Regions from separate parts of the Homo sapiens genome. Here region 1 is linked to region 2. A link means that fine-mapping ties the variant in region 2 to the expression of a gene that starts in the linked region. Tissue or cell type: whole blood. Region 2 holds a variant in brackets; the other region holds the start of a gene. All regions are shown on one strand. Distances are between the middles of the regions.

Region 1 (6,780 bases), 120 kb after region 2:
CCTCAGCAGGGAACCAGAGCCGGGACAGGACGCAGGGCCGGGAGCGAAGGCAGAACCCCGGGAGCTGAGCCGCTCGGGGCAGCGCGAACCCGAAGGGATGGGCATGGGGGTGGGGAGGTTGGCAGTGACGTCATAGGATTAACCTCCCTGTGCCAGGCCAGGTGCTGCCCCCTCGGAGAGCCACAGTCTCGGAGCTGACGGACCTGGGGAGCGTGAGGCGGAGCCGAGCCTGGAGTCCCCAGCAACTGGTTCTGGGTTCGAGGCTTGGACAGGCCGGCACCCCAGCCCGGCACCCGCGGTGTAGTTGTCCGCGACGTCAACCCGTGGGTGGGCATCCGTGTGCAGGTTCTGGTGGCCGAGTCGGGTGTGCACTTACTATTTATATGCAAGCACCAGAGTGCGTGCGCGAAGTGGGGGACGTCCAGGTGGCAGCGTTTCTGCGGCCGGTGGCCTGGGTCCGGCAGAGACATGGGCGCACACCGCCACTTTGCGGCGGCCAGCGGCGTGGCATCCTACAGAGAGGCTAGTGCTCAGGGCCTGATTTGCCACCTACTTGCCCTGCTCTACCCCATCCTCAGATCTCCCAGGCCCAGAGATTCTGCACACTGGCTTGGGTCCCTACGCCACTCTGGGGTCCTGAATTTTCTTTTTTTTTTTTTTTTTTTTTTTTTTTTTGAGACGGAGTCTCGCTCCGTCGCCCAGGCTGGAGTGCAGTGGCGGGATCTCGGCTCACTGCAAGCTCCGCCTCCCGGGTTCACGCCATTCTCCTGCCTCAGCCTCCCAAGTAGCTGGGACTACAGGCGCCCGCCACTACGCCCGGCTAATTTTTTGTATTTTTAGTAGAGACGGGGTTTCACCGTTTTAGCCGGGATGGTCTCGATCTCCTGACCTCGTGATCCGCCCGCCTCGGCCTCCCAAAGTGCTGGGATTACAGGCGTGAGCCACCGCGCCCGGCCCTGAATTTTCTTCTTGATTATCGTATTCGCCTTTGTGCTTTTGATCCTGCCGTTCCTTCCTCCAGAAACAACCTTCCTTATTCTCCTGGTTTACCCTTTTGTTATTCTTGTTGTTGGATAGGCTAAGTCTACATTTCTTTTAATTGTTATGGACACTTAATAGTTGCAGAGAATTATGGAGAGGCATGTAATGTTTTGATACAGGTATAAAATGTGTAATGATCAAATCAAGGTAATTGAAGTAACCATCACCTCAAGCATTTATCATTCCTTTGTATTAGGAACATTCCAATTCCGCTTTTAGTTATTTGTATTTGTATTTTATTTGTTTATTAGAGACAAGGTCTCACTACTTGGTTGCCCAGGGTGGAGTGCAGTGGCATGATCATAGCTCACTGCAGCCTCAAAGCAATTCTCTTGCCTTGGCCTCCCAAAGTGTTGGGACTACAGGCCTGAGCCACCACTTCCCGCCCAGTTATTTTGAAATATACAATAAATTGGCCGGATGCGGTGGCTCACGCCTGTAATCCCAGCACTTTGGGAGGCAGAGGTGGGATGATCACTTGAGGCCAGGTATTGAATGAAGACCAGCCTGGGCAACATAATGAGACTTCTGCCTCTACAAAAATTGTTTTTAAAATAATTAATTTAAAAAGATACAATAGGCCGGGCGCGGTGGCTCACGCCTGTAATCCCAACACTTTGGGAGGCCGAGGTCGGCGGATCACGAGGTCAGGAGATCGAGACCATCCTGGCTAATATGGTGAAACCCCGTCTCTACTAAAAAATACAAAAAATTAGCTGGGCGTGGTGGCGAGCGCCTGTAATCCCAGTTGCTCGGGAGGCTGAGGCAGGAGAATGGCGTGAACCCGGGAGGCGGAGATTGCAGTGAGCCGAGATCACGCCACTGCACTCCAGCCCGGGAGAGAGTGAGACTCCGTCTCAAAAAAATAAATAAATAAAATAAAATAAACAAAATAAAAAGATACAATAAATTATTGGTAACTATAATCGTTGTATTGTGCTACCGAACACTGGATCTCATTCATTCTAACTGTATTTTTGTACCCATTTCCCCCCCTCCCCAGTACCCTTCCCAGCCTCTGGTAACCATCATTCTGCGATGTCCATTTTGCTTACTCTTTTTTTTTTTTTGAGATGGAGTCTCACTCTCGCCCAGGCTGGAGTGCAGTGGGGCAATCTTGGCTCACTGCAATCTCCACCTCCCGGGTTCAAGCGATTCTCCTGCCTCAGCCTCCCGTGTAGCTGGGATTACAGGCGCGCGCCACCACGCCCGGCTAATTTGTGTATTTTTAGTAGAGATGGGGTTTCACTATGTTGGCCCGGCTGGTCTCGAACTCCTGACCTCAGGTGATCCGCCCGCCTTGGCCTCCCAAAGTTCTGGGATTACAGGCATGAGCCACCGTGCCCGACCATCTTCCAAAACTGAGCTGTGATGTCCTTCCTCTAGAACACCTGACCACAGGACATGACTTTTTTTAATCCCCAGTGCCTAAGTGTCTAGAGAGCTGAGTGGGTTGCCTCGGATCGGCCAGGCCTGGATATCAGCGAACAGATGCGGATTTCCACCAGGGGGCGCTAGGACGCCACGACCTTTCACTATGTGCACCAGGGGGCGCTGCCGCCCGCCTTGGCCATCCCGGGCTGGGAAGTCCGACCCTTCGATTAAGCCCCGCCTGATTGGGAAAGGCTCTGAGAAACTATTTGCATGATCTTGAAAGAGCTGTGCTGAATGGTTGAGGTAGGTAAGCCGAATGTGAAACAGGCTCTCTCATTGGCCTAAATTCCCCCCCTCGATCTGCGTCGCCATCCCGGCCCTGCTGGACCCCGGGGTCAGTAGGAAGCCGCGGGGTGGTGGCGAGAGAGGACCCAGGTGTCCTGGCAGTGGGCGCCGCGGGGCACACGCTGGGCCAAGGTGCAGGCGGCCAGGGTGGGAGACTGTTCGCCCCGCCCTGAGTACTCCTATCTTGTTTCTCCACCTGTTCGGGAGTTGGAGATGTGCACCTAAAGGAGGCGCATCTGGGGACGGACACATCTGGCACTGAGGCCCTCGCCACCTGCCTCGCCACCTGGCGACCCTGACCCCACCACACTGCCTTGAGGTAGGAAAAGGAGGCTCCTCAACCACAACTTCTGACCTCCCAGGGTGTCTGAGGCCTCTAAAGAGCTTAGTTTGCCCCTCTGGGAAGTGAATCCTTGGCTTATGGTGCCGGGGGGACCCTGGAGGCCCCCTCACACGAAGGCTGCTTCTTGCAGAGTCGCTCAAAAGTAGGGCCCCAGGGCTCGCAGCAGCATGGGCACCGAGAAAGAAAGCCCAGAGCCCGACTGCCAGAAACAGTTCCAGGCTGCAGTGAGCGTCATCCAGAACCTGCCCAAGAACGGTGAGGCTGCGGGGACTCGCATTTGGACTCGCATTCAGGACGCCTGGGGTCTGACTCTGAAGAAAGAATGGTCCTGATCACTGCAGTTTTTGCAGACAAGCCCCTGCCTGGGCTGTCCTGGGGGTTCCCTCCGCTTCCTATCCTAGTCCAGATGCCCTGGGTGGGACCCATCACCACCTCTGCCCTTTCCAAGCAGGGTTCTCCCGCCCCTCCGCCCCTTGGAGCTGGGAGTGATGCTTTGCCCTGGCTTCCCAACTCTCTGCCCAGGTTCTTACCGCCCCTCCTATGAAGAGATGCTGCGATTCTACAGTTACTACAAGCAGGCCACCATGGGGCCCTGCCTGGTCCCCCGGCCCGGGTTCTGGGACCCCATTGGACGATATAAGTGGTGAGCTCCCTGCTGGCTGGGCAGACAAGCCTCAGCTGTCAAGCAGCCCTCTCACAGCCCTCTGCCCCCAGGGACGCCTGGAACAGTCTGGGCAAGATGAGCAGGGAGGAGGCCATGTCTGCCTACATCACTGAAATGAAACTGGTGGCACAGAAGGTAAGGGCTGCAGGTTCTCTGTCCCCAGGCTCCTGGCCAGGTGGCCTCACCCTTCCAGTTCTGACCCCCACTACGTTTCCTACACATGGACCCCCTCATGGGAATCACCACCTTCATGTTACCCCCAACCCTGCCTATCTTTGGCCCCTGACTGGGCACAGGGTGGAGGTGTGTGACAGGGCAGGAGCAGGGAGGAAGGGACAGGAGGCCACTCCGTCCCCAACAGACCCCCTCCCCTACAGGTGATCGACACAGTGCCCCTGGGTGAGGTGGCAGAGGACATGTTTGGTTACTTCGAGCCCCTGTACCAGGTGATCCCTGACATGCCGAGGCCCCCAGAGACCTTCCTGAGAAGGGTCACAGGTCAGACTCCCAGGCTGGGAGCTCCAAAAGTGCTGAGTGAACCGTCTTAGGTCTAGGCTGAGGTGGGCTGGGGGCAGAGGGCTCCAGGCGACATCCCTGTTAGGGCCCCCAAGCCCCCGAGAGGTGGATCCCAGGCAGCATCCACGGCTCATCACGAGTAGGGGCTTGATCACACTGGGAGGTGCCAGCCTCTCCCCAGGCCCACCTCTGGGTGCTGTGTCTTGGCAGGTTGGAAAGAGCAGGTTGTGAATGGAGATGTTGGGGCTGTTTCAGAGCCTCCCTGCCTCCCCAAGGAACCGGCACCCCCAAGCCCAGGTTAGTGCTTGAGCAGGAGGGGTGGACCAAACTCAGGCTGGGGGAGGGCTGGAGGGGAGAAGGCTGGATGCCACGCTGTGCCCTCCACAGACACTGAGACTTCCTGTGCTCCCAAAGGTGGGGACCGGGGTCTAGGATTCCTGTTCCAGGGCCTTGCTTCTGGCGCCCATCTGTGCCTCAGGTGTTGATATCTCTAGTGCCTCGTATCTCTAGTGTCTCCTAAACAGGTGCTTCTGCCCAGTGCACACTCCTGCTCTCCCTCCACAGCTTCCCTCTGGGCAGTAACTCTACCAACCCCTCCACAGAGTCCCATTCACCCAGGGACCTGGACTCCGAGGTTTTCTGTGATTCCCTGGAGCAGCTGGAGCCTGAGCTGGTGAGCCCAGTCCCCATTCCCCCCTTTTCCCACCCCACTGTGCTCCCACTCCCACCCTCAGCTCTCTGACTCATCTCAGCAGGTTTGGACAGAGCAGCGGGCAGCATCTGGAGGAAAGCGTGATCCCAGGAACAGCCCCGTGCCCCCCACAAAGAAAGGTGAGCTCCTACCCAACCTCTCACCCACTTCTGCCCTTTCCCGTGGTCCTGGCACCCCAGGCTTTCTCTTGGCTGCCTTCCTAGGGCAGAGTTGAAAGTCCATTGCTGGGCACTGAGCGAGAAGCCTCTGTCCAGGAAGGGCTGCCAACCAGCCAGATACCTGCCTGGATGGGCAAAGTCCCCGCCCTCCCTCCTCTCCCCAAAGGGCACCCAGGAGTCTGCACCCTCTGCAGGTCCTGAGTAAGGCCAGCGGGATGGGAGTCCTAGCCCAGTTCTCCCACCTACAGCTGCACAGCCTCAGGAAGTCATCCATATTCTCTGGACTCCCCCGTTTGGAAATCTCAGAAGACAATGAGTTCTGCCCTCTTCCCTTCTAGAACTCCTGTTGTGTGTCAGGTCCTGTATGGACATTTTGAAAAGTTTCTCCTTTTTTCCTCTGAGCAAGCAGCCCTGTGAGAGAAATGACATCTTCTCCTAATTTTTAGATGACAAAATGATGCCCAGAGAAGTTAATGACTTTGGCCGGGCACGATGGCTCACGCCTGTAATCCCAGCACTTTGGGAGGCCAAGGCAGGCAGATCACCTGAGGTCAGGAGTTTGAGACCAGCCTGGCCAACATGGTGAAACCCTGTCTGTATTAAAAATACAAATATTAGCCGGGTGTGGTGGGCACCTATAATCCCAGGTATTCGGGAGGCTGAGGCAGGAGAATCGCTTGAATCCAGGAGGCGGAGGTTGCAGTGAGCCGAGGTCATTGTGCCACTGCACTCCAGCCTGGGCAACAGAGCAAGACTGTCTAAAAAAAAAAAAAAAAAGGTAATGACTTGATCTGTGTCATAAGCGGCCATGCTGGGATTAAACCCATAGCAGCCCATTACTCAGCTACATAGATGGACTTTGCAAGAATCACACTTGGTACAGCGACTGGGTTCCACTCCTACACTTTCCTGGGCTTGCCCCAGCCTGCCCCCACCCTGCCCAGAGCTGAATTGCCTCCTGAGCCCCCTTCCCTGTGTGTCTGTGCTCCGCAGAGGGGTTGCGGGGCAGCCCGCCGGGGCCCCAGGAGTTGGACGTGTGGCTGCTGGGGACAGTTCGAGCACTACAGGAGAGCATGCAGGAGGTGCAGGCGAGGGTGCAGAGCCTGGAGAGCATGCCCCGGCCCCCTGAGCAGGTAGAGTCCCCCACCCCATAGGACAAGATGATGGCAGAATCCGGTCTTTATTCTGGGCTCCTCTTCCAGCCACTTTTGTTTTTGTCCTCACGCCTCCACCTGCCCACATCTCTCTCCAGAGAATGGCATGGCTCCTGCTACAGGCAGGAGGTGGGGGTGAGGGTGGAGGGGGCTGACATGCTTCTACTCTGAAGGCACAGTGGGTGGGGCCCTTTGCCGTTCTCCCCTCCCTCTGCCTGGAGAGAAGCTAAGCCTCAGGACTAATCCCGTGTGGGAAGGGCCATGATGTGTCTGCTCTGGGCATTGAGGATGCGGGTCCCTATTGCCCCTCAGTCAGGACTTCCATTCCCAGAATTAGGATTTGCCCCAAATGGTTCAGCCCTTGCATCCCTCTCCTCAACTCCTAGCTCTGCTTGCCTCTGACACTTGGGATCCTGGGCTCCTGCAAACTAAATAACAGCTGCCATTGCTGGAGCCCCGCTGGGTGCGAAACA
Region 2 (8,282 bases):
CCTCCTGGTCAGCAGCTGTAGGGGTGAGTCACGGCTCTCATTAGAGCTTAATTAATCAATTGAGCTAATCAGACAGCTGTGATGTGCTGTGGTTGCAGATGGGGGGGAGAGGGAGAGAGTTGGAGCGTGAGGGACTGGTAAGGCGAGCTGGGGCTGGCAGGGCCTGGAGTGGCGGCAGGGCCTGGAGTGGCAACAGAGTCTGGTGGGTTGGCAAGGGCGGAGGGCGCTGGAAAGGAGGATGAATGATCCTGACAAAGGCCCGTGATAGGTTGCTCTGAAAGGTGACCTTGGCAAGGTGCCAGAGACCGAGGCTGGGGGAGGAGGAAGCAGGACCTCTCCCACCTCCAGCTTCCTCTCTCATTTTTTATCTTGTTAAGTGTGTCTCCAAAGCTTTTTGAAATCCTCCACTGAATGGGATGGGAAAAGGAGACAAAGACAAAAAAAGGTAGGTCCTCACATTCCCAGTGATCCCAGTCTGATGGGGGAGGCCAGAGGTCTACTGGCAGCACAGACAGAGACCCAGACTAAGAGATGGAGACAGAGACACGGTGTCTCTCCAGGTGAGCTGCTCAGGCTTGGACATCTGGACTGGGTGGATGGGGAGGAGCCAGAGGGACCAGAGCCAAGGGTAGGCGGGAGTCCAGTAAGAATATTGGGAGGAGGGGAGCGCCTGAGCGGGTTTTACAATGTGATGTGCAAAATCTTGTTTCATCTATTTTTTTCTCACATCCGACCTTGGTGTTACCTTGGGGTGGGGAGCGAGCAGGGCAGGAAGTGCAATGGTGGGAAATGGGTTCCGAGAGGACTCATGGACAGCTGGGATAGCTCTGCCCTCCAGGGGCTTCCATTTCCAGAGGCTTACCGGGAGTCTGAGGCTGTGAGAGAGAAAGATCCAGGGCCTGGGACATGCAAGGGGCTACGGGAGATGGATCAGAGGAGGGCAAGCATTTCTGATGAGGCTACCTGGTAAGGATTCCTCCCAGAAGAGGTGGCATTTGAGCCAGGTCTTTCAGAATGGATGGATTTCAATCAGCAGAATTGGGTGTGGAGAGGAAGAAGGATGTTGCAGGAGGAGAAGCGGCCCAGGCAAAGGCAGAGAGGCTGGACAGCCTTAGGCAGGGCCAGTTGGCACAGCAAGTTGGGCCGGAAACAAGGTTACTGTTTGTGTCAGGTGGAAAGAGCTTGATGGTGAAGGGCTCTTGGAATCCCAAACCAAGGAGTTTGAAAGGGAATTTGGTAGACACTAGGAATCACTGTAAGTCTCTAACTGGGAAGAATAGGCTGAAAGTAGCTGTACAGAGAGGATGTCTATGGAAACAGTTCTTTGTAGGATGGAACCAAGAAGGAAGAAACCTGAAACAAGAAGAAAGAAATGGCAGGTGTGGTGACTCACACCTGTCATCCCAGCACTTTGGGAGGCTGAGGCAGGCAGATCACGAGGTCAGGAGTTCAAGACCAGCCTGGCCAACATAGCGAAACCCTGTCTCTACTAAAAATACAAAAATTAGCTGGGCATGGTGGCACATGCCTGTAGTCCCAGCTACCCGGGAGGCCGAGGCAGGAGAATCGCTTGAACCTGGGAGGTGGAGGTTGTGGTGAGCCAAGATTATGCCACTGCACTCTGGCCTGGGCAACAGAGTAAGACTCTATCTCAAAAAAAAAAAAAAAAAAAAAGAAGAAGAAGAAGAAGAAAGAAAGAAAGGCCGGGCGCGGTGGCTCATGCCTGTAATCCCAGCATTTTGGGAGGCCAAGGCGGGCGGATCACTTGAGGTTGGGAGTTCGAGACCAGCCTGACCAACATGGAGAAACCCTGTCTCTACTAAAAAATACAAAAGTAGGCAAGCATGGTGGTGCATGCCTGTAATCCCAGCTACTCAGGAGGCTGAGGCAGGAGGATCGCTTGAACCTGGGAGGGGGGAGGTTGCAGTGAGCCGAGATTGTGCCATTGCACTCTAGCCTGGGCAACAAGAGCAAAACTCCGTTTCAAAAAAAAAGAAAGGCCAAGTGCAGTGGCTCACACCTGTCATCACAACACTTTGGGAGGCAGAGGTGGGAGAATTACTTGAGGCCAGGAGTCCAAGGTCAGCCTGGGCAACATTGAGAAGCCCCATCTGCACAAAAAAAGAAAAAAAATTAGCTCGCTGTGCTAATGCACTACAGGTGCATGCACCTGTAGTCCTAGTTACTTGCAAGGCTGAGGAGGGAGGATCACTTGAGTCCAGCAGTTGTAGACTGCAGTGAGCTATGACCATGCCACTGTACTCCATCCTGGGTGACAGAGCAAGACCCTGTGTAAAAATAAATACATAAATAAGTAAAAGAAGAGGCTGGGCCAGGTGGCTCACACCTATAATCCCAGCACTTTGGGAGGCTGATGCAGGCAGATCATTTGAGCCCAGGAGTTTGAGACCAGCCTGGGTAACGTGGCAAAATCTGGTCTCTACCAAAAATACAAAAAATTAGCTAGATGTGGTGTTGCGTGCCTAGGGTCCCAGCTACTTGGGAGGCTGAGGTGGAAGGATCTCTTGAGCCCAGGATGTTGAGGCTGCCATGAGCCATGTTTGTGCCACTGCACTCCAGCCTGGGTGACTGAGGGAGATCCTGTCTAAAAATAAATAAATAAATAAATAAATAAATAAATAAATAAATAAAGTTAAATCCCAGATCTATCCCTTAGTTGCAGTCTGCAAAAGAAATAACTGAGGGGCTGGGCACCTCAAAGTGTAATCCTAGCACTTTGGGAGGCTGAGGCAGGTTGATCACCTGAGGTCAGGAGTTCAAGACCAGCCTGGCCAACATGGCAAAACCCCGTCTCTACTAAAAATACAAAAATTAGCGGGTATGGTGGTTTGACTATAATCCAGCTTCTCCGGAGGCTGAGGCAGGAGAATCGTTGAATTCTGGGGGCGGAGGTTGCAGTGAGCCAAGATTGCGCCACTTCACTCCAGCCTGGAAAGAGTGAAACTCAAAAACAAAAACAAAAACAAAGATATAACTGAGGGCTCACTGTGGCTCTCGGGACCTGGCAGGTGGGCTGGGGGCTTGGTCCTGGGGTAGCCTGGTGCTTCTCTCCACACTCCTCCCCAGGCAGGGCAATTGTGCAGCTAGGACAGGGAAGACCAGTGGGAAGTAGGGGCTGGGACCACTTGGGCACAAGATCAGCTGGCCCAGGTGTGAGATTCAGGTTTCCAGGTCCCCTTCCCTGGCTCCCAGCATCAGCAGAAAATGTCAGACTAGACCCACGAGGGCCTCCCAGCCAGCACTCGGCTGCCTTTGCATTGCCCTGAAATAGCCCTGTCCACTCCTTCCCACAAACCCTCGCGCCTAGAGCAGCTGAGAAGGAGGTCCTGGGTATCCTGGCCCCACCCCAGCGTGTCCAGCTCACCCACTGCTGGATGTGCTGTGTGGCTCTCAGAAAATCACACCCTTTCTGGGCCGCCCATCCTACCCTCTTTCTCCAGCCTCCCACTGAAGTTGGAGGGCCCCTGCAGACTCTGGGAGTACAGCCAGCAATAGCCAACCAAGGGAGGGGCGGCCTCAAAAGGGGCTCCCTCCCTCCCTCCTCACTTTCTCTTTTCCTCGCGCACGTTCATGGCTTACAAGCATACTGTCTTTGTATAAGAAACCTTTTTACAGCCTTTAAAGCAGGGTTGATCACAGCTATTCCCATTTGAGTGATGGTGCAGTTCCAAGAGGGGCCTTACCTTAGATGCTACAGCCAGAAGACTAGGCACTGACTGGGAATGAGAAGTACCCAAGCCCAGCTGTCAGGCTCTTCCCTCCAAACCAGCTGCTCTAGTTGCCAGGAGACTCTGGAAAGGAGAGCTCAGTGTCTGCCCCAGCCCGGCCCCTATCCTGGCGAAGTGGTCATTAGTCTGCCTCCCCCAGAGAGCCCCTGCTGGGGCACTGTAATGCCTCAGAGGCCAGAAAGTTGCTCCCACCCCCAGCAAAAGGGGGGCTCTGCCCTGTATTTCTCAGGGGCTCACTTCACCTTCTGCCTCCAGAGGTCCCTCCTCACTATCACAGGGAGGGGGCAGGGGTCGGGGCAGAAGCTCCTATCCTGTGGGCTTCTCATTCCAGATCTCTGCTGGCCCGGTGCGGTAGCTCCTGCCACATGTGGCTTCAGGGCACCTGGAATGTGGCTAGTGCCACATGCTGAAATGATATTTTAGATATATTGGGTTAAGTTAAAAAATATTATTTGAGGCCGGGCGCAGTGGCTCACACCTGTAATCTCAGCATTTTGGGAGGCCGAGGTGGGCAGATCACCTGAGGTCAGGAGTTTGAGACCAGCCTGACCAACATGAAGAAACCCCATCTCTACTAAAAATAGAAAATTAGCCAGGCGTGGTGGTGCATGCCTGTAATCCCAGCTACTCGGGAAGCTGAGGAAGGAGAATCACTTGAACCTGGGAGGTGGAGGTTCCAGTGAGCCGAAACTGCACCATTGCACTCCAGCCTGGACAACAAGAATGAAACTGTCTCAAAAAATATATATAATATATATATATAATATATATAATATTATATATATTATATAC[T/TATATATA]ATATATAATATATAATATATATAATATATACTATATATATTATATATAATATAATACATATTTAATTTGAATTAATTTGAAGTGTTTCTTTTCACATTTTTTTTTTTTTTTTTTAGACAGGGTCTCACTCTGTTGCCTAGAGTGCAGCAGTGCAATCACAGCTCACTGCAGCTTCGACCTCCTAGGCTCAAGTGATCCTCTCAGCTCAGCCTCTCATGTAGCTGAGACTACGGTATGCGCCACCACTCCTGGCTACTTTTTTTGTAGACGTGACATATCCCTATGTTGCCCAGGCTGGTCTTGAACTGATCCTCCTGCCTCAGCCTCCCAAAGTGTTGGGATTACAGGCGTGAACACCGTGCCTGGCCTGTTTTTACTTTTTTAAATGTGACTATTAGAACATTTAACAGTACATTGGCCGGGTGCGGTGCTTCACGCCTGTAATCCCAGCACTTTGGGAGGCCGAGGCAGGCGGATCATGAGGTCAAGAGATGGAGACCATTCTGGCCAACATGGTGAAACCCCGTCTCTACTAAAAGTACAAAAATAAGCAGGGCGTGGCAGTGCTCGCCTGTAGTCCCAGCTACTCAGAAGGCTGAGGCAGGAGAATTGCTTGAACCCAGGAGGCAGAGGTTGCAGTGAGCCGAGATCACACCACTGCACTCCAGCCTGGCGACAGAGCGAGACTCCGTCTCAAAAAAAAAAACCAAAAACAGTACATTGGCCTGGCATGGTGGCTCATGCCTGTAATCCCAGCATTTTGGGAGGCCAAGGTGGGTGGATCACCTGAGGTTGGGAGTTCGAGACCAGCCTGACCAATATGGAGAAACCCCATCTCTATGAAAAATACAAAATTAGCCGGGCATGGTGGCGTATGCCTGTAATCCCAGCTACTCGGGAGGTTGAGGAAGGAGAATTACTTGAACCCAGGAGGCAGAGGTGCGGTGAGTGGAGATTGCGCCATTGCACTCCAGCCTGGGCAACAAGAGCGAAACTCCGTCGTCAACAACAACAACAACAACAACAACAACAACAACAGAACATTTAACAGTACATATATGGGCTGGGTGCAGGGGCTCATTCCTGTAATCTCAACACTTTGGGAGACTGAGGTGGGAGGATCACTTGAGGCCAGGAATTTGAAACCAGTCCGGGCAACATAGTGAGAGCCCCATCTCTACAAAAAATACAAACAAATAAACAAGCAAAAAATCCCCCAAAACTAGCCAGGTGCTCAGGAGGCTAAGGTGAGAGGATTGTTCGAGCCCAGGAGGTTGAGGCTGTAATAAGCTATGATTGTGCCGCTGCACTGCAGCCTGGGCCACAGACGGAGACCTTGTCTCTTAAACAAATTAGTTTAAAAAAATTTTTTTAAGTGTATATGTGGCTTACAGTATATTTCTAGTGGGCAGGGCTCCCCAGATAACAATAGCCCCTCAGCCCTGTCCAGTGTTTTGTATAATCTCTTTTAAAAACTCTGAGACCAGTGGGGTAGGGGCCACCTGCCTCTATTTTACAGACAGGGAAGGTGAGACTCTATGAGGTCAGATGACTTGGTCAAGGTCATATAGCCAGGAAGGGGTGGAGGCCCAGGTTTTCCTGACTCTAGATCTGAGACAATCCAGAGAGATGTCCCTGCTTCCCCATGGGCATTGACCCACACTGGATCACTCACTACACCCAGCCCCTCCTGCAGCCACTGCCCCCTTCCCACACTCCAGGAATCTTCCACTAGAAACAGCCCCCTGACAAATCCCATTAAGACAAATGCCTCTTGGGCCTCTGTTGAAGCCGAAGTCTGATTTGAGTTAGACTCTGGCCTACGATTCCCCGTCAAAGCTGCTGCCTTCACCCTGCAACTAAAGCCATGGCTCCTTTGTACCTGCTGCCACTCACATACATCAGGGTAGAAGAAGCAATGGCCACTGCTCCCTGGGACATGCCCATTTCTCTCCCACCCATACTCCTCCACCTGGGTTCCGCCTTATCTAGCTACTCCTTGAAGATGGGCATATTCAGTGATTCTAGGGGACTGTTTCTTTAATTTCCCCCCCGTCTGTCCCTGGAACGTGATAAAAATACCCAGCATTGATCTTTTTTTCTTCCCTTTCTGCCAGGATAATGTTTACCCAGGTGTCAATCAGGAGAAGAATTTGGCTTCCTAATTTCTCTTCTCCTCCCTGGGGGCCGCACATCTCCCTGCCTCGCATGGACACTGAGCTGGAATCAAGGTTACTAATAATCCCCCAGCACACACAGACACCGAAAGCACATATATTAAAGTCACATATTGATTTATATTTTCGGGTCCCTCTGCCTTTCTGCCCAGCCTCAGCCTTTCTCTTTGCCAAGGAGAAAAAAGAATTACACAGCCATATTTTTCGCCAAGATGTTTAGTGTAAAGAGCATTGTGTCTGAAGGTAATTCCCGCTCTCCCACCCTCTTTGCGGGTATTTTAAAAAAATAGTGTGGCATTGCCTATCCATATGCATTTATCTTTTTGCTGTTCGTTGTTTCAATTTTCCCTGAGGGTACCAAAGAGAGATTTAAGGTAGACTGTCAGAAGGTCTTCCTGGCTTGACAAATGGTGGGCTGCCATCTCCAAAGAGGCTGGTTGTTTCGCCAGCAGAGATAATCCTATTGCAGGTAGGGGTGGAGTGGGTAAGAGTGAGTGTAGAAGGCAGGGCAATGGATTCAGCAGCCTCTAGAGGTCACCCCAGGCTGGGTGTGGTGACTCATGCCTGCAATCCCAGCATTTTGGGAGGTCGAGGCGGGAGCATCACTTGAGGCCAGGAGTTTGAAACCAGCCTGGGCAACATGGTAAGACCCTGTCTCTAAAAAAAAAAAAAAAAGAAAAAAATTAGCCACGCATGGTGGTGCACATCTGTAATCCTAGCTATTCGGGAGAGTCACCTGGGCCTAGAAGTTCAAGGTTACAGTGAGCTATGATGGCTCTGCTGCACTCTCATTTGGGCTAGAGTGAAACCCTGTCTCTAAAAAAATTAAAAAAATAATAAAAGGCCGGGCACAGTGGCTCACACCTGTAATCCCAGCATTTTGGGAGGTCAAGGCGGGCAGATCACGAGGTCAGGAGATCAAGACTATCTTGGCCAACATGGTGAAACCCCGTTTCTACTAAAATACAAAAAATTAGCCGGGCGTGGTGGCGCACACCTGTAGTCCCAGCTATTCTGGAGGCTGAGGCAGGGGAATCGCTTGAACCCAGGAGGCAGAGGTTGCAGTGAGCCGAGATCGCACCACTGCACTCCAGCCTGGTGACAGGGCAAGACTCTGCCTCAAAATAAATACATAAATAAATAAATAATAATAAAAGAGATTACCCACCAGTTCAAATAGCACCTCATAATTACTGGCTGTGGTCCCATTTCACAGATGGGAAAATCAAGGAGTGAGTTTGCTTCCCATTGGCAGGGAACTGAGGCTCTGGATTCCATATCAACCTTGCCTTTCCACCTGGATTCAGGATTTGATGGGAAAATAACTTTCCTCCAGGTGGGGCTGACTCTTGCACTGAGACCCTGGGGGCGGGACAGCTGGGGGGTAGTGCTGGCAGAGGAGGAGCCTCATTCTTTAAAAAGGGCTCTCAAAGCACTAAGCCTGAGGCTCACAGTCTTCCCCTAACCTCTCCTCCCACCCAGAGGCCCTGTCACTCTGGCAGAGCAGACAGTTAAAAATGCCAGGCTAGGCATTTGACTCCAGTTCCCTCAGGGGCTCTTGGG

The links. PIP is the estimated chance that this variant, and not a neighbour inherited with it, causes the effect.
Region 1: ACBD4 starts here. The variant in region 2 is fine-mapped to the expression of ACBD4 in whole blood (INTERVAL, PIP 0.90).

What each region holds. Positions count from the first base shown.
Region 1 is chr17:45,132,875-45,139,654 of GRCh38, forward strand. ACBD4 (acyl-CoA binding domain containing 4) reads left to right here and starts at 2,813. Exons shown (of 10, transcript NM_001135705.3): 1 at 2,813-3,079; 2 at 3,234-3,358; 3 at 3,626-3,746; 4 at 3,818-3,902; 5 at 4,145-4,265; 6 at 4,494-4,580; 7 at 4,886-4,956; 8 at 5,039-5,114; 9 at 6,147-6,286. The coding sequence starts at 3,271. RefSeq lists an enhancer at 365-434.
Region 2 is chr17:45,009,783-45,018,064 of GRCh38, forward strand. It overlaps LOC107987243 (a long non-coding RNA gene), which reads right to left and starts at 4,219. Exons shown (of 6, transcript XR_007065771.1): 1 at 3,705-4,219. RefSeq lists an enhancer at 2,842-3,628. The variant T/TATATATA (reference allele first, on the strand shown) is at 4,542.